4 linked regions of the Homo sapiens genome follow. The protein of the gene in region 1 purifies or fractionates together with the protein of each later gene. This does not show direct contact. Each region holds a gene or a part of one and is shown in the gene's direction. Other genes may lie near its edges.

Region 1 (7,026 bases):
TTGAGTGTAGAAGGCAGGTAAACAGTTAATTATAGTTCAGTGTGTTAAGGGAAATATAGGATGGTTACTATGGAAGCCCATAGCAAGGGCACTTGGGAAATTCAGAGAAGGGCTCTTAGAGAAATTGCCATGCAATTTAAGTCCTGAATGATGAGGAGAGGAGTTACTCAAAAGCTATGTGAAGTGAAAGGGCCAGAGTATGGTGAGAGATGACACTAGAGAGATGAGGATGGATCTGTTTTGGCAGAATTTGTTAAGGAGTTTGGATTTTATTATTAAAAACCATAGGAAGCTAATATATCCAATATGGGTCCTCTTGATACACCAGTGCTATCTGTAAAAATATCATGAGAGTCTTGTATGGTCATGTGGCTTGCACCTGGAAAACCCTGGAGTCTCCTTACCTGTAAACAAGTACACAGTGTTTTTTCATCCTACCTACTGAAATACAGGTCCGTCCCTGCTAACTGGAGTCTTAACCACTCATTCATTTATTCAGCAGATGTTCACAGATTACCTGCTGTGTACCATTCTCTTCCTTACCACGGAGCAGCTTTCCTACGTTCTGTAGTCTCCCCCAAAGAAAAATATTTTTTGTAGCTTTGACATTGAACTAAAATTGAGAACAAAGAAGACATTGCTGATGGATTGATAACCTGTGTTGTCTCAGAAAGTGACAGAATTTATAAAGTTTAAAAAAGGATGCATAAAAATGCCTCAATAAAGTTATACATAAATACAGAATGTTTAATGTATTTGAATTGCCTTCAGTTCGAGTGTTGAGTTTTACTATGCATAAAGCACTATGGCAGGCTTTATGGAAGGTAATGAGGATAAAACCATTTCTATTATTAAAGAGTTTCCAGTGTAGTTGGCAAGGTGAGGCACATATGCAATCAACTGTCGTACAAGATAGCGTATAATAGATTAGTGCTCAGTTAGAGATATAAAGGCAAAGGAAGGATCACTTTCACCTAGGAGGTTTAGGGAAGGCTTTGGGAAGAAGATACTATTCAAAGGTAGGTCTGAGTTGTGATAACCAAACCTAAGGGGTAGAGACCTGGGCCTTCTGCGTGGAAAGTGCCAGGGTAGTTTGAGAATCAACTGGTCTTTAAGCTTTGTGTCAGGAGTTATAACCTCAAATGTCTACTGGGGTTCATCCTAGAGGCATGCGTACTTACATTGTATGAACACTGTCTGTGGAATCCATTTTTAAATATTTATACAGGAACTCCTGTTGTACAGCATTCTCATTGCATTCCATGTGAAAATGACCCCCTTAGGTTGTGTAGCATGGCCTTGCATTGGTAGACTCTCAATTCGCAACTCCGCGTTCGCATGTTTTAAGGGCTAGTACTAGGGAATTGGTTATGGCTCATAGAATAGGAGCCTGAGACTTCTGTTTGTTTCCCTAAAACCAATGGCTTTATCAAAAGTATTTTAACTTAATTCTTAAATTATTGAATGAAATAAGCTTTGGAATTTTATGTATTTTCATGCTGAAGTTTAGCTTATTTTGAATCTATAATATAATCTGAATATCACTTTGAAAGCTATGATTTTTTCAGCTTAAAATTGATAAGGACCTTCAAACAAAAACAAGTTCTGGTCATTATAGCCTGGTCTAAACTAATTTCTTGGTCTGGTTTTCTGATTCTCTAGTATTTAAATATTAAATATTATAGTAAATATTATAGTAAAGTTTATTTCATAATGCCAAAATGACAAGTTTGACTTCTTAGATCTGTTCTATTATATATTACAAATTGTTTTTTGTTTTTTTGTTTTTTTGTTTTTTGTTTTTTGTTTTTGAGATGGGCTGGAGTGCAGTGGCATGTTCACAACTCACTCACTCAGTGCAGCCTCGACCTCCCTGGGCACAAGCAATCCTCCCACCTCAGCCTTCTTAGTAGCTAGGACTACAGGCATCTGCACCACACCTGCTAATTTTTTTGTATTTTTTATAGAGACGAGGTCTCGCCATGTTGCCCAGGCTGGTCTCGATCTCCTGGCATCAAGTGATCCACCCACCTTGGCTTCCTAAAGTGCTAGGATTACAGGCATGAGCTATTGTGCCTGGCCAACAAACTGTATTTTAAAATAAACCATTTATTTCTTCAGGGGGGCATTTTTTTTTCAGGGGCAACCCGTGAAAAACCCATTTTCACCAAAGGTGAAATGTCTATGGTTTAACAGTTTTAGATCCACAAACACTATACTCAGTAGCCATCCTCTGGAAAAATTCACTGAATTTTTAGCACTGTGTGGCTAAACAGAGTCTTTCTCTATTGTATAAGTCCATTACAGTTCTAAGCTGGTCCATGAAATAGTCATTATTTCCTTATTTTCCATCAGTCCTAATGCTGCAAGGACTCTTTTACAAGAACATAATAATTTAGAAAAGATGGCTGGCAAGGGTGTTCATTTTTTTGAGTTTAGAAAATTTAATAAGTAGGCCATAAGAATATTCTTATACCAGATTCTAGACCCGTTGCCACCTTAAGCAAATGTTCCAGACTTGATGTGATGTTAATGAGTTTCATGTTTTTAAATAAGGTAAGTCTGGCATGTTGATCTTTGAAGAAATACCAGCACAAATATTAACTTAGTTTACTACTTAAATGCTGATCAGCTTGCAGTAGTAATACATTTACATGAGGTTATATAGTGTTGTTTAAACTAGATTTCCAGGCTTACTGAAAAAAATTTAAAAGAAACCAAAAAAGTAGCTAGTATTTACATCTAAGACTGCTGAATCATGTCTGATAGACTCTAAAGTGTTAGAAAAGTGTCCCACATTTGAAAGACACGTCAAAATTTTGTGGTCCTTTATTTTATAAGTTATTTGATGTTAGGGTAATGATAGGATAATTATCTTTATTGGCAATTGTTTTTATCAAAAGGGTAGCATCCTAATTCCTAATAGGTTATTATGTGCAAGTATACTAACACGAATTAACAATTGTTAAAGAAAAGCACAGTAAGTACTCCCAATTTTTTGTCTTCAAAATAATATACACACTTTTCTTGATCGATAAGGTGCTTATTCCCATATAAAGAGGTCTTAACAGACACAATTGTTTATACCTAATTCAACCTATTTTCATCTCACTTATTCCTATACTGCATATATTCTGTCTGAATAAAATTGCATTTTCTTTATAAGTGACAGTTACACAGTCTTTTCTCCTTATACCCAGGTGATACATGTTGTTCCAAGATACCCACTGGATGCCTGACACCACAGATAATTCTAAAACCTAATATACTGTGTATTTTCCTACACATACATGCCTATGATAAAGTTTAATTTATAAATTAGGCACAGTAAGAGATTAACAATAGTAACTAATAATAAAATAGAACATTTGTAACAATATACTGTAAAAAAAAGTTATGTGAATGTGGTCTTTTTTTTTCTCTCTCTCTCTCTCCCTCTCCCAAAATACTGTAATAGTTACGGACCATGCTTGACTGCCACTAACTAAAACCATGGAAAGAGAAACTGTGGATAAGAGGGCATTACTGTATTGTAAATTATAAATATTAAAGTTTTGAGGTCATAACATCATTTACATTTGTTTTATATTTTGTTTTCAATAAAGAATAAGATAAACAGTAAAGAATTTATGCATGTATTAATAAGCATTCAATTGGAGCTCATACACATGAATTAATTGGTACTGTTGGCTTAGTATTTTAATTCTCAGTTTATGCGGTGGTTGGTTTTTTTTCTTTGTGTACCTTTGAAAAGATACATTGCTTTGGTATTATTAACAAAAAAGTAATAGGTTTTTAAAATATAAAAAGTTATATGCTTATGTTTTTTGATTTATAGAATATTATTTAAAGACAAAGATCGGAATTGGGATGACATAGAAAGCAAATTAAGAGCCGAAAGTGAAGTCCCTATTGTGAAAACCTCAAGCATGGTATAGTAATTTTTCTTGAAGATTAAAACATTTTAATAGAGTTTTATTTTAAGGAAAAGACCCTTATTTTTGAGCTGTTCGTTGATTTGCTTTTTCAAAAGAAGATATAAATGCAAAATTTTGGGAAATTTTATTTCTTCTACTGACTCACAGGTTTAAAATGTTGATTGTTTCAAAGTTGCAGAGGGTATGAAGGAGGAGCCTTTTGTGTTTCTTACTAGTATAGATTGTTCTTGTAATAATTAAACATTAGAAACATGAAATTTTTAAAGAGAACCAAATCTAACATGAAAATATTAAGTTGACATAAGTCGTTTCCGTTTACTTAATATAATGCTTATCTTCTTTTTAAAAGAATTTGTACAGATTTTCATTGCTCAGAATATAATTATAATATTGAGGTTGCAGTTTATATGTTTTTACAAAGATAATTTGAAGGCATTTTTACATAGTTATTGCAAGGTTGATTAATAAGAATTTTAAAAATCTTTGCGGCCGGGTACTGTGGCTCACGCCTATAATCCCAGCACTTTGTGAGGCCAAGGAGGGCGGATCACTTGAGGTCAGGAGTTGAAGACCAGCCTGGCCAATATGGCGAAACTCTGTCTTTACTAAAAATACAAAAATTAGCCAGGCATTGTGGCGGGCGCCTATCATCCCAACTCCTTTGGGGGCTGAGGCAAGAGAATTACTTGAACCTGGGAGGAGGAGGTTACAGTGAGCCAAGATTGCGCCATTGCACTCCAGTCTGGGCGACAGAGTGAGACTCGGTCTCAAAAAAAAAAAATCTTTGCTTAAATAGTAGTAAATGTTAAACTTTTCATCTGCTACAATCATCTCACTGAAAAAGTTATTGTATTTCATTTTAGTTTAAATATTTTAATTTGAATCTTGTTTGCTAGATATCATAATTATTTCATATCATGTTGCTATTAATGTAGTAAGTACCATGTAGATAATATTAAGTGTTCCAAATAAAGTGAGAGTGAAATTCATTGCTTGTAAAGTGATAACATTTAGCTAAAAGTAGGCTAATTTTTGTTATTGCTTTCCCTGCAGGAGATTTCTTCTATCTTACAGGAACTGAAAAGAGTAGAAAAGCAGCTGCAAGGTAAATTTACTACTGAATTAAGTATAAAGAGCTAATAATTTAGAATAAGTGCCTTCTGAGTGGTATTTCTTAAAATATTGTTAGGATGTTATTTGATTAAATGTAATGACATACATAAAATACAGAGTTCAAACATTCACATTATTCATAAAAAGGAATTTTTTTAAACCCAGTATAAAAATTTAAAATGTAATAAAGATATATGTTGGGCATATTTTAGTTCATAGGTTTGACAGTAGGCTAGATGTCATAAACTAATTGAAATTTTTTATGTATTACATATAAATAATATGTGAAAAATATATAATAAAGTTGTGTTAATTAGCATTATTTGTGTGATTTGACAGTTCTTAAATTATGTTGGTGGTGTAACCTGAAACAAACTTACATTCTAATAGAAATAATAGTTGTTTGGTTGACAAGAAATGAGTACATATTGGCCATAGAGACCAGAAGAGAAAGGAGAGAAGAAAGTGAAAGAGGCTGCCCTCTAAACTTGTCAGAGCTGGGCTGTGCATTAATGCCTATGTATGTCTTGACCCAGAAGTCCCCAGTGGTACAACAGGCAGGTTCCATAGTCAACTGCTAATTCTACTGAGTCTTTATCTATCGAATAATCATAGGTACTTATGTGGATCCTATCAAAATGATTTTTCATCTTTATTTAGCCCCAACACACCTAAGGGTTATGGTACACCCCATGAGTAAAAGTGGCTTGCTAACACAGTGCTTGTTAGCTGGTAGACTGGGGGTATACTTTTAAAAGTCCCTTCTACATGATTCTTACATCTATGTTACTTCCTTCTCCCAACTCCCTACTCTGCCCAATGCCAAATTGAAAATCACCGCCTGAGAACTTTCCATGTCAACCCAAAGATCTTTTGGACTGAAAGCTGACCTTTAACTGACCCCTTCCATATAGGCAGCAAGTCTGTTTGGCTTTGCAAGCTGCCCTGTGATATTAGTCTGTAGGCTCTGAGGGAACCCCTGTATCTCAGTGGTGTATACAGCTGATAACCCTAGCACTCTGGCCAGGCTAAATGACCGTATTCTATGGTAGCATTCAAAGTATGCTGATGTTCTTCTGGCCTCTCCAGCCTTGAGGTTACTCTGAACCCTGACTTAGCAGCTAATACCTCAGTTATCTGAGTGATGTGGGTTTAGATGTTTATTAAAAATCATATTCAGTATTTTCTCGGTCCTCTCACAATAATGAAGACAAATTTCAACAAGATTTTTCTTGAATTCCACATCTTCAAATACCAGACTTACAAGTCTCTGAAATGCCCGTAAGTGCCACATCAAAGGACCCAGAGAAAGTATTCAGGGCTGGGTGATTTACAGTACAGCTACAGAATAACTAAGAATGGAGTTTTAAATATAATATTGGAAGATTAGCCACATTTAAGATCACATACGCACTGATAGTTTAAATATTATCCAAATCATGAACAGTGTTTATATGTGAATGTAACTGCATCTAAAATTATTTCCTTTTCCCGCCCTTTAGCAATCAATGCTATGATTGATCCTGATGGAACTTTGGAGGCTCTGAACAACATGGGATTTCCCAGTGCTATGTTGCCATCTCCACCGAAACAGAAGTCCAGCCCTGTGAATAACCACCACAGCCCGGGTCAGACACCAACACTTGGCCAACCAGAAGCTAGGGCTCTTCATCCTGCTGCTGTTTCAGCCGCAGCTGAATTTGAGAATGCTGAATCTGAGGCTGATTTCAGTATACATTTCAATAGATTCAACCCCGATGGGGAAGAGGAAGATGTTACAGTACAAGAATGACTTTCTCTTGATTGTTGAAAAATCATTACCTGTGGAATGGCTAGGAATATTGGAAGCAGCATAGTGTTGATGTACGCAAAACAAGACAGCTTGGTCAGCTACAATCTTGGAATCCCTGTCTTCTTAATTTTATTTATTTATTTTTGACGTATAATGTAGTATATCAATCCTTTCAAACTATTT
Region 2 (7,026 bases), on another chromosome or scaffold:
TTCTAGCGCTTTGGGAGGCCAAGGCGGGAGGATCGCTTGAGCCCAGGACTTCAAGACTAGCCTGGGCAACATAAGTTGACCCCCATCTCTCAAACAAACAGAAATTCATAATTTTAAAAAAAGTATTTAGCCTTCTGTTTTTGCCGTGAAGCCTTGGAGGTCTGGTGTGTATTTCATGTCGCAGTTTTTCTCGGGACTGGCCACACCTCACGGGTTTGACAGCTCTGGGTGGCCAGTGTCTGCTGTTCTGACGGCACTGCTTCAGGTAGTGGTCTGGAACATTCTCAGAGATACATGAAGTGCAAGATGAAGGCCCAGAATGTAGCAATTTTTGTTTGTTTGTTTGAGACGGTGTCTGGCTCTGTTGCCGAGACTGGAGTGCAGTGGTGCCATCTTGGCTCACTGCAATCTTCGCCTCCCGGGTTCAAGTGATTCTCCTGCTTCAGCCTTCCAAGTAGCTGGAATTACAGGCGCCCACCAACGTGCTCAGCTAATTTTTGTATTTTTAGTAGAGACGGGGTTTTGCCATGTTGGCCAGGCTGGTCTTGAACTCCTGACCTCAAATGATCTGCCCGCCTCTGCCTCCCAAAGTGCTGGGATTACAGGTGTGAGCCACTGTGCCTGGCCCCAGCCCACACTTTTTTTTTGAGACGGAGTCTTGCAGTGTCGCCCGGGCTGGAGTGCAATGCCGCAATCTCAGCTCACTGCAACCTCCGTCTCCCAGGTTCAAGCGATTCTCCTTGCCTCAGCCTCCCGAGTAGCTGGGATTATAGATGCCTGCCAGCACGCCCGGCTAATGTTTTTGTATTTTTAGTAGAGACGTGGCTTTCACTATGTTGGTCAGGCTAGTCTTGAACTCCTGACATCGTGATCTGCACGCTTTTGCCTCCCAAAGTGCTGGGATTACAGGCGTGAGCCACTGTGCCCGGCTTCCCAGCCCGCATTTTTAAACATCATGAACTCTATCAGTAGAAATTGTCGGTGTGTAGGCCACGCTTGGGTCGTGTCTGGGTTGTGGCAGGCACTTAGGAAGTGGGTTGGGAGTGACACCTGAGACCATCACTGAGGAGGGCTTGCTGTGCCCCCACCTGCGCTGGGGGCTGGGGAAGTTACAGAGAAGCGAAGAGGGTGGGCTCAGCTCTTGGGGAGTTTCTTTCCCGGCTGGGGAGATGAGGCACGTTTCACATTCCGTAGAGGAACTGAGAGCCTGCCAGTGGCCTTGCCTCTAAGGAGCAAGTCTGTGGCCAGTGAGACCGGGGGCTGTCTGGAGGTGGGCGGCTGTGGTCTGCTGTTGCTGTAGGAGGACTCAGTGGCAGAACCTGAAATCTGGTTGGCAATAGCAAAACAGGGAAAGGCGTGGTTTACAGAACCAGGTTGTCCAGGTGTGCAGCGGCCGCAGGTGTGACTGGGTGCTGGTGCATATGGTGCCCTGTGTCCCCGGGGCCGAAGTCCACTCCAGCATGGAGGAGGCGCCCTGGCAGAGTGAATGACGGGGCTTATGTGCCACCCGCAGTGCCTGGTGGCTCCCCTCTCCTGGCCTGGTCTGTTCTTAGGCAGGCTTCTTAGGTAGCCTTCTACGTGGTGGCCCCTGCCGCGAGCCTGGATCCAAGCCCAGCAGAGGGAGAGAGAGATCCTCTCTTCCCAGCAGGCGTTCAGAGCCCTGTGGACTGGACCGGTCTCTTTGGGCTGGAAGGCGTGGTTTTCTGCTTGCCCAGGTCCAGTCGTGTCCCCTTCCACCCCTTTCCTGGGCCACTGAGTCCCACAGACTGAGAGTGAGCGGCAAAGGCTGCCCTGGGACAGCTGGGTCTGTTAGCAGGAGACAGCGTGGAGCCGGGAGGTAGGCACGCAGGAACCCGGTACCCAGCAGCAGCTGTCTGCTTCCTGTTAGAGCACCTGGGCTCTGGAGCCTGCAGCACCTGGTTTGAAGGTTTGAATCCTCCCGCCACTGACTGACTGCATGACCTTGGGCTAGTTGCTTTCCTTTTCTCAGCCTTGGTTTCTTTAAAATGCGGATACTGGCCAGATGTAGCGGCTCCACCTGTACTGCCAACACTTGGGGTGGGGGAGTGGGAGGATCTCTTGAGGCCAGGAGTTCCAAAGCAGCCTGGGCAATACGGCAAGACCCTGTCTCTACAAAAAATAAATAAATCAGGTGTGGTAGTGTGTTCCTGTAGTCCCACCTACTTGGGAGGGATCACTTGAGCCCAGGAGTTCGAGACCAGCGTGGGCAACATAGTGAGACCTCATCCTTACAAAAAGAAAAAAAAATTAATTGGGTGTGGTGGTATGTGCCTGTAGTCCCAGCTGCTTGAGAGGCTGAGGCAGGAGGATTGCCCGAGCCCAGGAGGTCAAGGCTGCAGTGAGCCATGACTGAACCACTGCATTCCAGCCTGAGCAACAGGGCCAGACCCTGTCTCAAGACAAAACAAAACAAAAACAAAAAAAGCGGATCTGGCACTTGCCTTGCACTTTTTATTTTTTTGAGGCAGGATCTTGCTACGTTGCCCAGGCTGGAGTACAGTGGCACAATCTCAGTTCACTGCAACCTCTGCCTCCCAGGTTCAAGCGATTCTCCTGCCTCAGCCTCCCAAGTAGCTGGGATTACAGGCACCCGCCACCACACCCAGCTAATTTTTTGTATTTTTGGTAGAGACAGGGTTTCACCATGTTGGCCAGGCTGCTCTTGAACTCCTCAGCTCAAGTTATCTGCCCTCCTCGAACTCCCAAAGTGCTGGGATTACAGGCGTGAGCCACCGCGCCTGGCCCCCTCAGTTCCCTCTTGATATGCATTGAACTGTTCATTCTTTCACTTTTCAAAAATACGCCGGTGCCATGGTGTTAACGTGTGGCTCTGCACTCCCCTCCACACACCTGCTGGGCATAGCCCTGGGAGGGGTGGGAACGCCGCGTCTGATGGTGTGGGGCGCTAAGGAATTGCTCTCTGAGAAGGCGCAGAGTCTGCACCCCCGCAGTGGCCAGCTCATGTCCTTCAAGTGCCTGGTGCAGGGCCGCGCCCAAGAGGAGCAAGTGGAGGTGACGGGGAGCCAGCCACCCCCACTTACTCCCTCCGCCTCCTCCACCCCCACTCACTCCCTCCCCCTCCTCCAGCGGCCAGTTTGCGATCGTGCGGAAGTGCCGGCAGAAGGGCACGGGCAAGGAGTACGCAGCCAAGTTCATCAAGAAGCGCCGCCTGTCATCCAGCCGGCGTGGGGTGAGCCGGGAGGAGATCGAGCGGGAGGTGAACATCCTGCGGGAGATCCGGCACCCCAACATCATCACCCTGCACGACATCTTCGAGAACAAGACGGACGTGGTCCTCATCCTGGAGCTGGTCTCTGGCGGGGAGCTCTTTGACTTCCTGGCGGAGAAGGAGTCGCTGACGGAGGACGAGGCCACCCAGTTCCTCAAGCAGATCCTGGACGGCGTTCACTACCTGCACTCTAAGCGCATCGCACACTTTGACCTGAAGGTGAGCCCTGTAGGGCCCTGTGGGGCCGGCCTGGCCAGTGTGGGGGTGGGGATGGGGCGGGGAAGAGCCTGGAAGGCACCTCCTGCGCGTGGGGGTGAGGTGTGGGGAGCGTGGGGGTGAGGTTTGGGGAGCGTGGGGGTGAGGTTGGGGGAGCGTGGGGGTGAGGTTGCGGGGAGCGTGAGGGTGAGGTTTGGGGAGCGTGGGGGTGAGGGTGGGGGAGGCCCGTGCTTTCCCTGCTGAGCCTCCTCCCACCCCAGCCGGAAAACATCATGCTGCTGGACAAGAACGTGCCCAACCCACGAATCAAGCTCATCGACTTCGGCATCGCGCACAAGATCGAGGCGGGGAACGAGTTCAAGAACATCTTCGGCACCCCGGAGTTTGTGGGTGAGGCCCTGCCCAGTGGGCAGCCCCGGCCTGGGGAGGGTGGTCTGGGGCTGCCTGCTGTGCGTGGGGTGGGTCATGCCCGGTGCTGGGTGCCGCGTCCTCGGCCCTGAAGCCACCCCTCTTGGGCCCGGCTTTGCGGGAGGTCTGGGCCTCCATTTGGTGCAGCCCCGCTGTCCTACCCGTCAGGCCCTGAGGGCCAGCTCTGCCGCATTCATGCCCCCAAGGGCTGCGACATGTGAGAACCTTGACCCCATGCCTGTGTCTTGAGCCTCTTCCTTGGCCAGCATGTCCCCAGTGCCTGACCCACATCTCCCTGTTCTGCAGCCCCAGAGATTGTGAACTATGAGCCGCTGGGCCTGGAGGCGGACATGTGGTGAGTGTACCACCTGCTCCCACCGGGCCTCCCTGCATTCCTGGAGCGCAGGCCAGTGCTGCAGCTGGGGATGAAGCGGGGCCTTGCTGCTGTTGGGGTATGGGGGGACCGTTGCCCTAGAACAGGGGCGCTGGACGCCACGGTCCTGGGAGGGTGGGCGGCCCCACGCTGCGCTGACCCTTGCCTCTTGTCTGTCCCCAGGAGCATCGGTGTCATCACCTATATCCTGTGAGTACCTGGCGGGGGCCCCCTCGGCTGTGCAACACAGCTGGCATGGGTCCCCGGCTCCGTGTGTCTCATGTGGACGCCAGGGGTCCCCAGCCTGGCTGTGACCCATCGCGGGTACTCAGGGGATACCGGGTGAACGGATGAGTGATTCTCTGTGGCTGCTGTCACAGAGGCTTCTGGAGAGTTCTGAAGGCAGGACACTCACAGAGCGGCTGAGCAGGCTCCGGGTTGGGGGTCGTGTGTGCTCCTGTCCCTCTGGCTGCTAGGGAGCCCAGCCTCCTCTCGAAGTGCAAGGAAGGGGTCCGACCCCACGCTGGGTTTTGGCTCCTGTCCCTGGGCCACACGTGGGCCTGCTGTTGTTTATTATTTTTATTTGTTGAGACGGGGTCTTACTCTCTTGCCCAGGCTGGAGTGCTGTCCTAGCTCACTGCAGCCTCCACCTCCCAGACTTAAGCAATCCTCCCACCTCAGCCTCCTGAGTACCTGGGACTACATGTGCACACAACCATGCTCCCATGCTCGGACTTTTTTTTTTTTTTGATGGAGTTTTGCTCTTGTTGTCCAGGTTGGAGTGCAGTGGTGCGATCTCAGCTGCTCACTGCAACCCCCACCTCCCAGGTTCAAGCGATTCTCCTGCCTCAGTCTCCTGAGTAGCTGGGATTACAGGCGCCCACCACCATGCCCAGCTAATTTTTGTATTTTTAGAAGAGACGGGGTTTCACCATGTTGATCAAGGCTGGTTTTGAACTCCTGACCTCAGGTGATCTGCCTGCCTCGGCTTCCCAAAGTGCTGGGATTACAGGCGTGGGCCGCTGCACCCAGCTGGCTAATTTTTTTTTTTTTTTTTTTTTTTTTGAGACAGAGTTTCGCTCTTGTTGCCCAGGCTGGATGAAGTGCCAAGGCCCCGTCTCAGCTCAGGCTTACTGCAACCTCTGCCTCCCGGGTTCAAGTGATTCCCATGCCTCAGCCTCCCAAGTAGCTGGGATTACAGGTGCCTGCCACCATGCCTGGCTAATTATTTGTATTTTTAGTAGAGACGATGTTTCACCATTTCGGTCAGGCTGGTCTTGAACTCCAGACCTCAAGTGATCCGGCCGCCTTGGCCTCCCAGAATGCTGGGATGACAGGTGTGAGCCACCGTGCCCAGCTGGCTAATTTTTAAAAGTTTTTGTAGAGGTGGAGTTTCACTGTGTTGCCCAGCCATATTGAATGGGCATAGCTCATTCAGTAAGCAAGGAAATAAACAATGGCGTGGGCCCAGCCCGCTGTAGTGCGTGAGCGGACCCAAAGGCTTCAGGAGATGGGCTAGACCGTTTGTATTCTTTTTAAATGTTCAGATAATTCAGACTTACAAAGGAGCAACAGAAACAGCACAGACGCCCCCTGCAGCTTCCTCCTCCTTCAGTTTACATTTTTCATGAACACGAACGTTATGAACACCAAGACGTTAGCCTTGGTGCTACGCTAATCACAAAAGTGCTAGATGGGCCGGGTGCGATGGCTCACGCCTGTAATCTCAGCACTTTGGGAGGCTGAGGAGGGCAGATCACGAGGTCAGGGCATTGAGACCATCCTGGCTAACACGATGAAACCATGTCTCTACTAAAAATACAAAAATTAGCTGGGTGTGGCAGCGGGTGCCTGTAGTCCCAGCTACTCAGGAGGCTGAGGCAGGAGAATGGCATGAACCCAGGAGATGGAGTTTGCAGTGAGCCGAGATCGCGCTACTGCACTCCAGCCTGGGTGACAGAGCGAGACTCCGTCTCTAAAAAATTTAAAAAATTTAAAGTGCCAGAGGTGGTTAGACACCCCCGTTTTCCACTCCTGTCCTCTCTGAGGTCCCCACACGGCATTTAGCCATTCAGCTCCTTCGCCGCCTCCAGTCTGAGGCTGTTCCTCTGTCTGGCTTTCATGACCTTGACCCTGACTTGTGCTCACGGGTCAGGTGTTTTGCAGAAGGCGTCTGAGTCCACGTTTAGTCTCGTGCGCTGTCACGATCAGACGATCAGACGGGGCTTCAGTGTCTCTGCTCAAAACCCCAGGGATGATGCTGTGTCACCCTCCCAGCGTCAGGCTGGGAGGCAGACGCTGTTGGGGCCTCTCACTGCCGGGCTGTTGACCTTGATCCTTTGGCTAAGGTGTTGGCTCGGGCTCCCCACTGCAGTTACCCTCCCCTCGGCGTTACTGAGCACTGGGGGCTTTCGGGCTCTGCGTCTGCACAGATACTTCGAGTCTCCAAGGAGACTTCTGCCTGTTCATTTCTGCTGCTGTCAGTGGCGGGGTGGGGGGGTGGATTTTGAATGCCTCTTGGGTGGTGTCTGGGATCGTTGCAGGAAGGTTCTAAGGGCTCAGGAGTGTGAGTGGCCCAGGCACCTGCCGTCAGCCTGTCTTCTGTGCTCCGCCTGTCGTGGGCAGCCGGAGAGGCGGCGCGGCCGTGGTGGGAGCCCAGGACCCCACTGAGCCCCCACGCCTGTCTCGCAGCCTGAGCGGTGCATCCCCGTTCCTGGGCGAGACCAAGCAGGAGACGCTCACCAACATCTCAGCCGTGAACTACGACTTCGACGAGGAG
Region 3 (7,122 bases), on another chromosome or scaffold:
ATTCAGTCTTTACCGTATGACACATCTGACAACGTACTTGACAGAAGCAACACACACTGAAGCACCATCTTAAAATGGCTGTGGTAGAATACCATAGAAGACCAAAATCCCTTAAATTACCAGGGCAAGAACTATAAGGAACTCAAAAGCCTCCAGTTAGCTTCCTTTCTTTCGGCGTTCTTTTTGCTGTGATGACCAAGGTCTGAAATACAATTTCTCTACCCAGCCCCATCGCCTTTTCTGCCAGGTACAGCTGAACTAAGTTGGGCTAACAAGGCAAATGATGGGCTCCAAACTGTGCTGCATCTGTCTTTATGGTGGCCCTCTTTATTACACCAAGATCCCCAGACACAACCTGCTGGCCCAGAACACTGCCTGCTGCCAACTAGAGCATAACCTGCTCATTCTCTCCACCACCAAGTGCTTTATGGGCCAGGACACAGCCTCCTGGGCAGTGGTCCTTGACCTTGGAATCTGACCTTGACACTGACATCACTGGAACATTAGGAAAAACCCATGAGCCTTGGACTCCCTAGAGACCAGCTAAATCAGAATTGCTGCAGTGGTGCTGGGGCATTTTTCCAATGACAAAGTCTCTTTCTACTCAAGAAATAAACTCAATTCTGATTGAGTCAGGGTTTCATGAATCAAGCTTCATGAATACTTATCCCAAATTATTTCACTTATATGTTGTAAGATGTTCCCATTTTTGTGAGTTTTATATTATTAACTAAGTTAATGGGAAATGAAGTGTATCTGTTAAAACCTAATCAATATTAACTTGTTATAAATATTCCGCAATCTAAACTGCTTTTACATCATTGAAAAGTTATAAAAATTAGCAAATCTGATAGCACCAATTCAATAAAGCAATTTAAAATTACCTAGTAGCACATTCTGTGAAACTTTGACAATATGATGTTACTTGGCTATGATATAATCATGTACTTCAATCATTTGAAAATGGTTGTTTAACTCAAAGGCAGGATTTTTAATGAAAAACAAATGGCCAGAAATACAAAGAACTAGGAATTAGGAGACAACTCTGTTTCTAGGCTCTTCACCAACAAGTTCTTAGGCCCCCATCTCTCTACTTAACTATCATTTAGCAAATACACCATATGAATTGCATGGGTGCCGAGTCTGCTATAAGAATGAATATGTTCTCCACAACAATTTACATATTTATTCATTTCTCTCTCCCTCTTTTTCCTTCTTTTTGGGAGTTCAAAACTTCTTGACTCTATAATTAGTAAATGTTATAAAACTGAACTTGTACATTATATTTGAACTGTTAAAAAGCAAAATTTGAGGCTGGGTGCAGTGGCTCACACCTGTAATCCCAGCACTCTGGGAGGCCGAGGCGGGTGGATCACCTGAGGTCAGAGGTTCGAGACCAGCCTGGCCAACGTGGTAAAACCCCATCTCCACTAAAAATACAAAAATTAGCTGGGTGTGGTGGAGTGTGTCTGTAGTCCCAGGTACTCAGGAGGCTGGGACAGGAGAACTGCTTGAACCTGGGAGGCGGAGGTTGCAGTGAGCCAAGCTCGCACCACTGTACTCCAGCCTGGGCGACAGAGGGAGACTCCATCTCAAAAACAAAAACAAACAAAATTTGAACAAATTTAAAGATGTAAATGGCTTTTATTAGCAATTTATGAATCTGGCAGCATCTCAACTAAAAATTTAGAAACGGTGTTCTGATTAGCTGAGCAGAGGTGGGCTGAAAACGGTTGAAGAAGCAAAAAGAGAATAAAAGACAGATTGGTCATTTCAAAGTTAAACTTTCCTCACAGAGACCAAATGGAGGAGAGACTTCTTTATCATGCTGGCTCAGGTAAATCAGGCCTCCTTGACTCCTTGCTGTGTATCTTCTGGATTTTTTGACAACTGGCCCATTTCTAAGTTGTTTGATTATGTGACACCTAGCACCAGCAACTCCATTCTGATTTGGCCTGGTCTGTTGGGCCTAGTGCAGGGGTTTAATCTAAAACAATGGCTTCCTATACATTTCATTTAACAATACTAATAAAATACCGCTTTTATTTTATTTGTTTACATTGGAGTCCTGCTGTTAAGCAAAAAAAAAAAAAAAAAAAACAGGGAGAAATCATGGTAGAATCGAAAGACCGAAAGCTACTAAAAATTGATAGCATTTAATAGTCCTGAATAAGTTGTTTCTAATTATAATTCAGCTACTAATTTCAAGAAGAAATGGAAATTTAGAAAGTTGAAATTATGAAATATGATTGCTGGGAAGTATAATGGGACAAAAATTAAAAAGCTGAATCTATCTTCACTGCCACTACTGCACTTCTACTCTGGACAACTGCAACCGATCCCTTCCAAAGTGGTTGTATCCAGGCCCACCCTACACCCACTTCCTTCTGAAAAACCAATCCACTTTCCTTAGGATACAGTCCAAACTCCTAAACAAGGCTTACCAAGGCCCTTCAAGATCTGACTCTCGGCGTCTTCTCATCTCTATGCCCCACTCCCCAGTCTCATTACCAGTCATTTTCCTACCACTCTGCTTCAGCTACCCTAGCCTTCTTTCTGGCAGTTCCTGTAAACAGCAAAGCATATTCTAGCATCAGAGGCTTTGCATTTCTAATTCTCTCTGCTGGCAAAATTCTCTCCCTAGATCTTGGCATGGCTGGCTCTTTGTCATTCAGATCCCTGCTCAAATGTCACTTCCTCAGAGACCTTTCCTATCTGTCTTAGTCCGTTTCCTGTTGCTTATAAAATAATTCCTAAAACTCGGTAATTTATAAAGAAAAGTAATTTATTGTCTAGTTTTGGAGGCTGGGAAGTCTAAGACTGACGGACCACGAGACAGCACCGCAAAGTATCACGTGGCCAGGGGGCTGAGCAGGCTCACGAGTTGTCAAGTCTCTCCTTAAAAAGCCACCAGTTCTACCTCCGTGATAACCCATTAATCCATGAATAGATCAATCCACTCGTGAAGACAGAACCCTCACGGTCCAACCACCTCTTAAAGACTCTACCTCTCAGTACTGCCACATTGGGGATTAAATTTCAACATGAGTTTTGAAGGGGACAGATATTCACACCATAGCACTACCTATCTAATACAGCCCATCACGTCCTGGTCAAAATCGATTCCACCATTCTGCTTGATTTTCCTCATATAACCCATCCCTATCTGATAATTTTGTGTTTGTTTCCCCGAAATCACTATCTTGTTCACTGTTGTCTCCCCAGGGACTAGAACAGTGGCCAGTAAACACTTGCTAATGAATAAAGTGCTTAACAAACGTGTCTTGATCAGTCTATCTCGCGTTTTCCCCACGACCCCTCTCCATTCATTCACAGGAACCCGCCAACGTTGCTATCCTTTCAGGAAGGTCCTTGGATCGTCATCGCTATCCCAAAGAGAGTCCGTTCTCCCACTTCAGGCGAGGCATTGCCAGCCTGGAAGCTAACGGGGTCTCAAGGACCGACAGCCGCGCCAAGACCGGGCACTTGCGTCTGACAAGCGCTGAACAGGGGCGGAGAAACAAGGCACCCCTCTACTCGCTTCCTGGAGCCTGCCGCCCTCCCAACCTTAAGCCCTGAACCAGGCTCTCATTTGGCCGCACTCGTGCCTCCCCTGCTGCCAGCACGGCGGCCGGTCCCGGTTACCTGCCTGGGATCTGGCTCAGGCGAACTCTCTTCACACCGCCATTTGAGGGAACACAAATGCCCGCTCTGGGCCACCGTAGTTCACAGAAAGTACAAGCTGGCACCTCCTCCCGCATGCGCAGAGACCGCCTTCGGCGAATAGTGTCTCTTAGCAACGGCTTTGAGTCCCTCCGCCAGGGGCGGAGCCTCGGAAGCCACCACGGGGAAGCTGTAAGGGGAAGTGAGTGAGACCAATCGGAGACGAATCTCTGCCCCGTTCGGCACGCCTCCCTTAACTGTCGCGAATGCAAAGGCAACTTTACGGCAGGCAGAGGGTGGGGGCTGCCGGGGGTAAGGAGGAGAGAAGGAAGCAACCAACCAACCAAGTCGTCCCTACTCCCTCCACCCCCACCCATCCCGGACCTGGTTTACGGCTCCAGGCTCAGGCTCCACTGCGGGCGCTGATTGGTTGTTGAAGGCTTGGTCCCATCCCAGTGACCCCAAAGTGCTGAAGGGAGGGGGCGGGGGTGGCCCAGTGCAAAGTGCATCCCGAAAGCCCCCTGTCCGGAGACCCCACGGCTGGCACTTCGGGCCCCGTATGACCTGGGACCTCGCCGTCCCGAGACCTCCTGGGTCCCTCCGTAGCTGGAAGCCTCCGGCCCGGAGCGCGGCAGCCCCCTGCTCCGAGCCCTGGACCGGGACTGCCCCCCCACCCGAGCCAGGACTTCCTCCCTGCCTCCCTGCACCTCTGCCCCAAGGCTGCCCGGCGGCCGGGATCGCCACCTCCTGCCTTCTCGGCTGTTCGGATGTTCGCCGGGCTGGGGCCGTGAGGCACCGAGGAGGATCAGGAACACCAGGGTCCGGCCCTGCCTGGGGTATTTCTTCAATGGAGAAGTTGGTGAGTGTAGAGGAGGCTGAAAGGAGGAAGAGAAGCAGCAGCTGAGGAGACAGGTAAAGTCCTTTACTTCCCCCGAGGGGAAGAGTGCTGGCTGGGAGGGTAGGAGGGAGGAAAATCTCTGCTTTTTCTTGCCTGCCCTTGCCACTCTCCAGCCCCTTTCCTGAGCTCCCCCCTCCCCACCTCTGAGACACTACACCACTCACTGGTTTCTGTTTTTCTAGGTTTGAGCTGGCTGAAGAAGACGCGAAAGCAGGAAGAGGTCTGCCCACCTATCAGAGAAGCAGAAGGCACAGTGCCTCTGACCAGCATCGTCTGTAAAGGTAATGAGCCAGCCCTCCCCTCCCCCGTTGTTTATTCCTGGCCCCTACCTCATTAAGCAGTGGTTTATTTTCAGGGTGGTTGCCTGGGAATGCAACCTTTCCTACCCCCCCCACCCCCACCCCCAGTTTCCCAGGAAAAACAAAAACATTACCCGTGCCTGATACTTAACATTTTATAACTTCTCTACCCAGGACAGTATTTTCCCACTTTCTTTCTGTACAGTGTGTTTCTGTGTTTTTCATTATCTTTTGGTACACTGTGCCATTTACTCTGCTCTGAGGCTTTGAGACCTTTTTGTAGCTACCCTCCCTTCCTTACTCTCATAGGAATTCCTCAATTCCTTGTTAATTGCTTGTTAATTCTGAATGACTTTCCTTTTTAATTAAACCACAATTTACTGTTTTCCCCCTTACTCTTTCCTATCACCTTTCTTCTACCTGCATCAGAAAAATCTTTTGAGTTATCTAACTGACAACGATTTGGTAGAGAAAGGTAAATTATTGGCCTGAGATTTATGAGTTTCAGAAAATAGTTTGATTTTATTTCCTACTAGAAAGCCAACCTGTGTACCTTAAGAGTGTGAATGGTATGAAGACAACATTATTACCCTGAAGCACTTAGGCATAATTAACTCTTTGGGCTTTCTGTGTGTTTGTGTGTGACAAATGTGGATGGGCTTTGAAACTTATAAAGATACAATGTTTCTTACACCTCAGATTTTCTAGGAGAACTTTTAAAAATTTGCACAATATCTTATTAATCGTTTGACTCAGGAATTTAAAAACAAAGGAACCTTTTGGTGTGTTTACATATCTGGGTCTTAATTTTAGCACTCTATAAAAAAGATTTCTCATTTTAAAACTTTTACGTAGAGTTTGCTGGATTGAAATTTAAGCATCTAATTCATGTGATCACATTTCTGCTGCCATATTTTGTTGCTGCTTCTGAAAATGCTCTGAAAGTAAACTTAGGACATTAGTGTAATTCCTAAAGGGGGGATATAAGCATGGAAATTATACAAGGTTTAATTCCAAAATTAGCCAAATGGATGACTTTTTTAACATCCAGTAGCAAAAGTATAAAGTGACTTGTTAATCTGAGTTATTTTAATATCCCAAATTGTTTAGGGAATTTTTGTTACAAGGAAGTGCTTAAAATAGCAGAAGTTAATATTTTTGATTTCCTATGTTCCACTGGACTTTCTGCCCTCCACAAAAAGAAATTAGTATCTTTACTGATTCTGTTAATTCTTAAGACATAGCTAAAGAGATAAAGACATAGCTTTTAAGGGGATCTGAGGTATGCATATTCTTGAGACATGGAACTGCATGCCAAAAGAAGAGATTCTAGGGAATAGGATTTAGAATCAGTATCTACCAATGACTGTTCCCTGTTGAAAACTTAGGGCAGCTTTTGTATGTATATGTAGGGAATCAGGAGTACTAGACTACATCATTTCAGTAAAAGCTACCCGGAAATCTTTAAAGGCTAATTTTTATTATGTAAGTATGGAAGTTGTCAGGGAGATGGCCTAATGATTACTTCAGAACTTTTAAAAAATGCTAAAATATTTGAAGTATGTTCTAAAGATCAAAATGAAGTACTGTGTTTTGTATTCAAGCCTCTCAGTTAAATATTTTTTCAGCTTTACATGTAACTCTAGGACGCTTTCATTTCTAAAGAGTAGTTTCACCTGAGATGGTAAAGGGAAGGAGTCTGTGGCTAGTCCAGCACATAAGGTAAGAGAGGATAAGTCTTTACTCTGGCTCTCAGCCAGTTCATTCTCATTGCTTAAATCGTATTTCATGGATCATCTCATTTTTTAATAGTTTTTCTAAGATTAGGGAATATGTGTAAATTGTCAACATCTGTCATGTTTCTAATATCAGAATGACTGAGAGTATTTGGTCTAGATTATACCAGGCATTTAGAATATTTAATTTGGGTATTTATTTACCAACATGGCTAGTTAGGTAGCTTACATTTTTTAACCTGGCAGTTAGCTTTGTATTAATTCTATTGCCAATCATGTGGCTTAAAAAAAATCCAATTTATTTCGTCACCAAATATAGATTTATAATCACGTAGGGAGAATAATTGATTTTAATTGAAGATATGCAATGATGCATCTTTAGTATACTGTGGCCAGTACTTACATTCTTTACACATAAAGTGATGTCATTTACAATTAGTTAATACTATGACACATACAGTATCTCTTTAATTTGTTCACGTTTAACTTTGGTGACATAGAGATACACACCATCCCTAAAAAGTCT
Region 4 (7,026 bases), on another chromosome or scaffold:
TGGTGGTGGGTGCCTGTAACCCCAGCTGCTCGGGAGGCTGAGGCAAGAGAATCGCTTGAACCTGGGAGGTGGAGGTTGCAGTGAACCGAGACCGAGCCACTGCACTCCAGCCTGGGAGACAGAGCAAGACTCTGTCTCAAGAAAAAAAAAAAAATTGCTCTTTAGTTGGTGGAAGTGCTGCTGGCTTGTGTTTAGGAGTCACATTGAAAAATACATAGCTTTAAAAGGCCATATCCCCATACGTGCAACAGCATAGATGAACCTTGACTTTGTGCTAAGTGAAATAAGCTAAACACAAAGGACAAATATTGTATGATTCCACTTAATGGTGTACCTGGAGTAGTGAAATTCATAGAATGGGGAGGTATTTGATGGGTACGGAATTTCAGTTTGAGAGGATAAACAAGTTCTGGAGAACAGTTAGTGGTGATGGCTCCACAACGGTGTGAATGTACCTAGCCACTAAGCTATACCCTCACAAATGGTCAAAATGGTAAATTTTATATTACATGTATTTTGCCAGCCTAGGTGACCAGTGAGACTCTGTCTTGAAACAAACAAACAAACATTGTAAATGATGGTAACTTTATGGTGATAAGTAGATTATGTGTAGATTTCCAGGGAGAACAGTCATTTGGATGTATAAATTTTTTTAAAAAATCAAGCTCCTCTTAAAAGGAGCTAATTTTTGCTTGTTAGATATAAGGGAATGACCTACTTCCTCATTTTGTAGTCAATGAAGGAGAATGTGAGGTCCCAAAGAAATGAAGGAAATTATCTAAGTTTACATGCTGAGGCAGGCCCGAACCTGGCACCAGAACCTCACCCCGCTGACTAACCAGAAAAGGTGCTTGTATGCCTTTCCCCCATACAAATGTTTACCAGGTGACAGCATTCTGGTACCACCTTCATAATTTTTGCCATCCGCAAGTATCATTATTACTGTCACTTACATTTTATTTATTTATTTATTTATTTTGAAATGGAGTCTCCCTCTGTCGCCCAGGCTGGAGTGCAGTGGCACAATCTTGGCTCACTGCAAGCTCCGCCTCCTGGGTTCACACCATTCTCCTGCCTCAGCCTCCTGAGTAGCTGGGAATACAGGCGCCCACCACCACACCAGGCTAATTTTTTGTATTTTTTAGTAGAGATGGGGTTTCACCGTGTTAGGCAGGATGGTCTCGATCTCCTGACCTCATGATCCGCCCGCCTCGGCCTCCCAAATTGCTGGGATTACAGGCGTGAGTCACCGTGCCCAGCCTTGTCACTTACATTTTCTTTATGTCAACTTATTTCATGTAAAATACATTTATTTAAAACAATGTTATTTAAAAATGAAACTTGCTATCATATTTTAGATGGAAAACCTGTAGTATAAACTATCAGAAAATACAATTAAGACAATACTGTTTTAGTTAGATGTTTGTTTTGAAGCTGAAGCCTGTTCTATTTTTGTTCAAAGGGGAGATTAGTAATTTTTAGGTATTAAAGATACACTCAACCAAAGGGACAGAATGGGAAAGGCTGAAAGGGGAATGAATAACGTTCTCATCGTTCAAGTCATTGCCGGTGCCACACCCAGAGAAAAACAAGCACCACACCAGACAGCCTCTCAGCAAGCCGAGTAGGTGGAATTTTTATTTTGCAGAAAAGTAGTGTACGAGTTAACATAGAAGTGGTTCACTGTGGGAGTGGTGAGGGGTTTCAGAGAGTCACTATTGGTAAACATTCTTTTTTTTTTTTTTTTTTTGAGACAGAGTCTTGCTCTATTGCCCAGGCTGGAGTGCAATGGCGCAATCTCGGCTCATTGCCACTTCCACCTCCTGGGTTCAAGCATTTCTCTACCTCTGCCTCCCAAGTAGCTGAGATTACAGGTGCCTGCCACCACGCCCGGCTAATTTTTGTATCGTTAGTAGAGATGGGGTTTCACCAGGTTGGCCAGGGTGGTCTTGAACTCCTGACCTTGTGATCCACCTGCCTTGGCCTCCCAAAGTGCTGGGATTACAGGCATGAGCCACCAGGCCCTGCCATAGGAAGCTTATTCGAAGCAGAGGGAATGGCCTTTACAAATGTGTGGAAACAGTAATAAGCATTTGAAACTTATCTATCTTTTCTAGAAGAAAAGAAGAAATTGATCAGGGATTTTGATGAAAAGCAACAGGAAGCAAATGAAACGGTGAGAACAAGGAACAAATTTTGTTTCTTCTACCTGGTGTTGGTCTTTTCCAGAAGTAATGCTATGAGCTGATCACAAATTAACTGTTCCTGTCCATTGATCTTGATTTTGACTATTTCTTACTAAATGAAGCCAGTTGATGGGGATGGTTGTTGAGGGGGTTTGGCAAACAAATGGGTGAAGCCTGAAGATGCTCCTGAAATGTGACTCTTTGGTAATATATTGCTGATGTGAGTAGTAAGGGCATTCTCATACTTTTACCCAAGCAGTCTTTTAAAATCTGTTGTTTTTTTTTTTGTTGTTGTTGTTGTTGTTTGTTTTGAGACAGAGTCTCGCTCTGTTGCCCAAGCTGGAGTGCAGTGGCACAGTCTCGGCTCACTGCAAGCTCCACCTCCCGGGTTCACACCATTCTCCTGCCTCAGCCTCCCAAGTAGCTGGGAATACAGGTGGGCGCCACCACACCTGGCTGTTTTTTTGTATTTTCAGTAGAGATGGGGTTTCACCGTGTTAGCCAGGATGGTCTCGATCTCCTGACCTCATGATCTGCCCGCCTCGGCCTCCCAAAGTACAGGGATTACAAGGCATGAGCCACCGTGCCTGGCCTAAAATCTGTTTTTAAGAGCTGGCCATTAAGATAGGTTACTGGTCAGTGCGGTGGCTCACGCTTGCAATCCCAACACTTTGAGATGCCAAGGTGGGAGGATCACTTGAGGCCAGAAGTTCAAGACCAGCCTGGGCGACATAGGGAGACCCCCCATCTCTACCAAACAAAAAAAAATTACCGAGGTTTGGTGGTGCATGCCTCTGGACCCAGCTACTCAGGAGGCTGAGGTGGGAGATCACTTCAGCCTGGGAGGTCAAGCATGTGGTTAGCCACAGTTGCACCACTGCACTCCAGTCTGGGTGACAGAGTGAGACCTGCCTCAAAAAAAAAAAAAAAAAAAAAAGGTTACTGTTCTTTGTTAAACCTACTGTCACAGAAAATGTAGTTTAGAGGTAATTCTAACCATGTCCCTTTCTGTCTTAAGAGACAACATAGGAGCTGGAGTTGGTACCTCAGGCAAGACATGCATGAGTCTCAGTTGGTACCCAAAGTTTGTCAGAAGTTGGTTCCGTTTACTGAACAGTTTAACAACTGCTTCTCTTCACCTGTGGCTTTTCTTTAAAAAAAAAAAACTTTTTTTTTTTTTTTTTTTTTGCTCTAGCCCTATAGAAGCAAGAGTCCTTTGACTCCATCTCATCATACTCTAGCTTCAGCAAACTCATTAAGATTGGGGCCAAAATTCTGGTCGCTGCTAGTACTCCGCAGAAATAGTTGGCCCTGTATTTGCTACCCGAGAGCAGATGGAGAAAAAATTCTCTTTTGGCCAGCGAACTTCCTTCTTGCTTGTTGAAGATCAGTGTTTCAATTTCCCACTTATCCCAATGAAGTTCTGAGAAGGAAGCACATCTGCATCCTTTTCTCTGTTTTGCATCTGTTTTAAGAAAGACCAGGCCACTAGACTGTGGGAACTATCTTCTTCCTAATGGGAGTACTGGGAGCTTTTCTTAATACCTGTGTACAGCTGGGCATATCCATGATACCTGTTTGTAGCCATTCTCCTGTTTCAGTTAATACCTTGGTAGCATTTTTAAAATCTTCTAGCTGCTACTGATTTGTTTGATGCTCAGATACTTGTTTTCTCCAAACTCAGCAAAAGTAATAATCCTATGCTGCCCATTCCAGGCAGATGAAAATAATTTAGGGCCTCTTGTGGATGTGTCCAGGTGTTACATTTTACTTACCCCAGAAAAATGGAAGTCTGATTCCCCTAAAGCAGACTGCTCTGGGTAGGCCCCTGTTCTCTCTGACATGGAGACAAACTTAATTGATTTTCAGAAAGAGGAGCAGGAGAAGGGAAGAACCCTGATGCCAGACCCCTATCATTTTTAATACAGTAGACTTCAAAGCACTTCTTGATGGCAATGTTCAATCATACCAGGCTAAAAACTTGGTATATTGAAGAGAGCTGAGAGAATTTGAAGATTTTGAATCCTGACTCCTTTTCTGTTTAATTTTTTATATATATATAGAGATGAGGTCTTGCTATGTTGCCCAGGCTGTGCTCAAGTGATCCTCCTGCCTCGGCTTCCCAAAGTGCCAGGATTACAGGTTTGAGCCACTGTGCCTGGCCCGGACTCCTTTTTGTGCGATCTTCAGAGGTTTCTTTAAGTCTTATATATGAAATGGAGCATTTCCTACCTTATTGATTTGTTGTGAGGATTAAATGGAGAATGTATATAAAAGTGTTTAGTAAGCTATAAAGTACTTCTGTTTTTCCATTCATTCATTCAGTTCATATACTCGAATGCCTGCTCTGTGCTTGCTGGGCACTATGCAAGGCATTCAGAATGAGGGGAACATGCCAGACATGGTCCCTGCCTCATGGAGCATATGGTTATTTACTTGGTGTAGTCCAAATAAATAAGTAGTTTGATTAGTCCAAACTAGGCATATTTCCAAATGAGTGAGGGAAGAACCAGGCTATCTGCTCACTACTTTCTGCCTTCCCAGCTGGCAGAGATGGAGGAGGAGCTACGTTATGCACCCCTGTCTTTCCGAAACCCCATGATGTCTAAGCTTCGAAACTACCGGAAGGACCTTGCTAAACTCCATCGGGAGGTGAGAAGCACACCTTTGACAGCCACACCTGGAGGCCGAGGAGACATGAAATATGGCATATATGCTGTAGAGAATGAGCATATGGTAAGTTTTAGCTGTTTTGTTTGTTTTTTTTTTCCTTTAAGGGCCTGTGGTACAAAAATTAACTATATTGTTGGGGTATTTCATGTTATCAGTGTATACTAGACTCTTGTTTCATTTTTTTCACCCTTATCCTCTTTTCTGCATCCAGTTCCTGTTACCCCTTGGTATCTGCTCTATTTAAGGCAGGCCTTTCGAACTATATGCATATTTAGATTTCTTTTTATCCTTAATATAATACAGTCTTATAATAAAAAAAAAACAGTGCTTTGTATGTAGTAGAATGTAAATGTTACCTATTCTTATTATCTGGATTCTGACTCATTGATCTAATTTCTTTTCTCCTTGATCTTTTTTATTCTCTCATATAAATTTTAGAATCACTTTCTCAGGTATGCCTGGAAAATTCAGTTAGGTTTCTAATTTATCAGAATATTGTTACAAAATCAATCCAAGCTTTCCTTTACCTTAATGTCAAGATGGCCCAGCAACTGAGATACAGTAGCCAATGCAGGGCGCTTCTCGAGAAGGAGCTTTTTATCATTTTATTCTGTGGTAATAGAAAGTGAGCAAGACTCCCTCTCTAGCTTTCAGGATTCTGATTTATAAAATTGGACTAATTGAACATCTGTATTCTGAAACCATCTAGAGCAGCTAGATCGTTAAAGGAATAAAACGTCTGAAAGATTAAATGTGCTGCATTTGGTCTGTCTTCCACAAACACAACACAAAGTAGAAATTCTCTGGCAAGTAGCATGGCAGAGAAATGGAAAGGGGCCCACCAGTGCAGACTGAAAGGCTCATACTACAATTTTAAACAAATCCTGTTTCACGATGCATCCTGATTATAGTTTAAGAGATATTCAGGATGATATTGGCTTGACATTGCTGATGCCAAAACTAGATCCCTTGAGAATGAAGTACTTAAAATTTTCAAATGGATGCGCGAGGGATTATCACAGATTAGAAGCTGACAGAAGATCACTTGTAAAGGGAGACTGGAAACAGGCAGGCAGGTGGAGCTGGTTAAAGTGGGAGTTGTAAAAGTGACTTTAGTCATGTTGCCAAAGTTGGGGAGGAAGTCCAAACAATTTTGCTTTAAAATTATGAGTTTCAGAAATTATTATTATTTTTTTTGAGACGGAGTCTCGCTCTGTCACCCAGGCTGGAGTGCAGTGGCGCAATCTCGGCTCACTGCAAGCTCCACCTCCCGGGTTCACTCCATTCTCCTGCCTCAGCCTCCCAAGTAGCTGGGACTACAGGCGCCCACCACCACGCCCGGCTAATTTTTTTTTGTACTTTTAGTAGAGACGGGGTTTCACCGTGTTAGCCAGGATGATCTCCATCTCCTGACCTTGTGATCCACCCGTCTCGGCCTCCCAAAGTGCTGGGATTACAGGCATGACCCACCACGCCTGGCGAGTTTCAGAAATTATTAAAACATAATTTAGGTATCCATACCTTCAGAAAAAGTATTGTTCCAAATCTGTCTGAAGTTCATTTATGTGATCTGATCTTTTCTTAGTCATTTTTTAGCCTACTCAGTTGAAAATCTGCATCTTTTATTTTGAAAACCTTTTTCCTTCTTCCTTTGCGCTAACCTAACTGGTTTTATTTGAACCTCATTCAGTGGTTTCCTCGTCTACTGGTCTGTATGCCATTTATTAAGTGAAAATGCTACAGAGCGCCGGGCACAGTGGCTTACGCCTGTAATCCCAGCACCTTGGGAGGCTGAGGCTGGTGGATCACCTGAGGTCAGGAGTTCGAGACCAGCCTGGCCAACATGGTGAAACCCTGTCTCTACTAAAAATACAAAAATTAGCTGGGCGTGGTGGCGGGTGCCTGTAATCCCAGTTACTTGGGAGGCTGAGGCAGCAGAATTGCTTGTGCCCGGGAGGCAGAGGCTGCAGTGAGCTGAGATCTTGCCACTCCACTCCAGCCCGGGCGACAGAGCGAGACTGTCTCAAAAAAAAAAAAAAAAAGAAAGAAAGAAAATGCTCCTTGCTACTTCTGTTCTGGGAGCCAATCTTTTGGCTCCTTGATGGTCCTACTGCCAGTGGTCACTTGCTCTGTACTAGGCCTCTGTGAGCTGGGTCCCTTTTGATTT

The links.
Region 2: the proteins of CEP170 (region 1) and DAPK3 purify together in Homo sapiens (affinity purification with mass spectrometry; 3 studies listed by BioGRID and IntAct, with this or other methods). This does not show direct contact.
Region 3: the proteins of CEP170 (region 1) and ASB7 purify together in Homo sapiens (affinity purification with mass spectrometry; 2 studies listed by BioGRID and IntAct, with this or other methods). This does not show direct contact.
Region 4: the proteins of CEP170 (region 1) and VTI1B purify together in Homo sapiens (affinity purification with mass spectrometry; 2 studies listed by BioGRID and IntAct, with this or other methods). This does not show direct contact.

Annotation. Positions count from the first base shown.
Region 1 is NC_000001.11:243,126,266-243,133,291, reverse strand, and holds part of CEP170 (centrosomal protein of 170 kDa), read left to right. Parts: intron 1-3,838; coding exon 3,839-3,932; intron 3,933-4,991; coding exon 4,992-5,043; intron 5,044-6,553; coding exon 6,554-6,843; 3' UTR 6,844-7,026.
Region 2 is NC_000019.10:3,961,074-3,968,099, reverse strand, and holds part of DAPK3 (death-associated protein kinase 3), read left to right. Parts: intron 1-3,108; coding exon 3,109-3,469; intron 3,470-3,726; coding exon 3,727-3,856; intron 3,857-4,180; coding exon 4,181-4,229; intron 4,230-4,430; coding exon 4,431-4,457; intron 4,458-6,587; exon of another isoform or gene 6,588-6,686; intron 6,687-6,938; coding exon 6,939-7,026. UniProt on the Homo sapiens protein: Serine/threonine kinase which is involved in the regulation of apoptosis, autophagy, transcription, translation and actin cytoskeleton reorganization. Involved in the regulation of smooth muscle contraction.
Region 3 is NC_000015.10:100,598,472-100,605,593, forward strand, and holds the start of ASB7 (ankyrin repeat and SOCS box protein 7), read left to right. Parts: upstream 1-4,117; 5' UTR 4,118-4,575; intron 4,576-4,743; 5' UTR 4,744-4,842; intron 4,843-7,122. UniProt on the Homo sapiens protein: Probable substrate-recognition component of a SCF-like ECS (Elongin-Cullin-SOCS-box protein) E3 ubiquitin-protein ligase complex which mediates the ubiquitination and subsequent proteasomal degradation of target proteins.
Region 4 is NC_000014.9:67,657,627-67,664,652, reverse strand, and holds part of VTI1B (vesicle transport through interaction with t-SNAREs homolog 1B), read left to right. Parts: intron 1-2,117; coding exon 2,118-2,176; intron 2,177-4,730; coding exon 4,731-4,922; intron 4,923-7,026. UniProt on the Homo sapiens protein: V-SNARE that mediates vesicle transport pathways through interactions with t-SNAREs on the target membrane. These interactions are proposed to mediate aspects of the specificity of vesicle trafficking and to promote fusion of the lipid bilayers.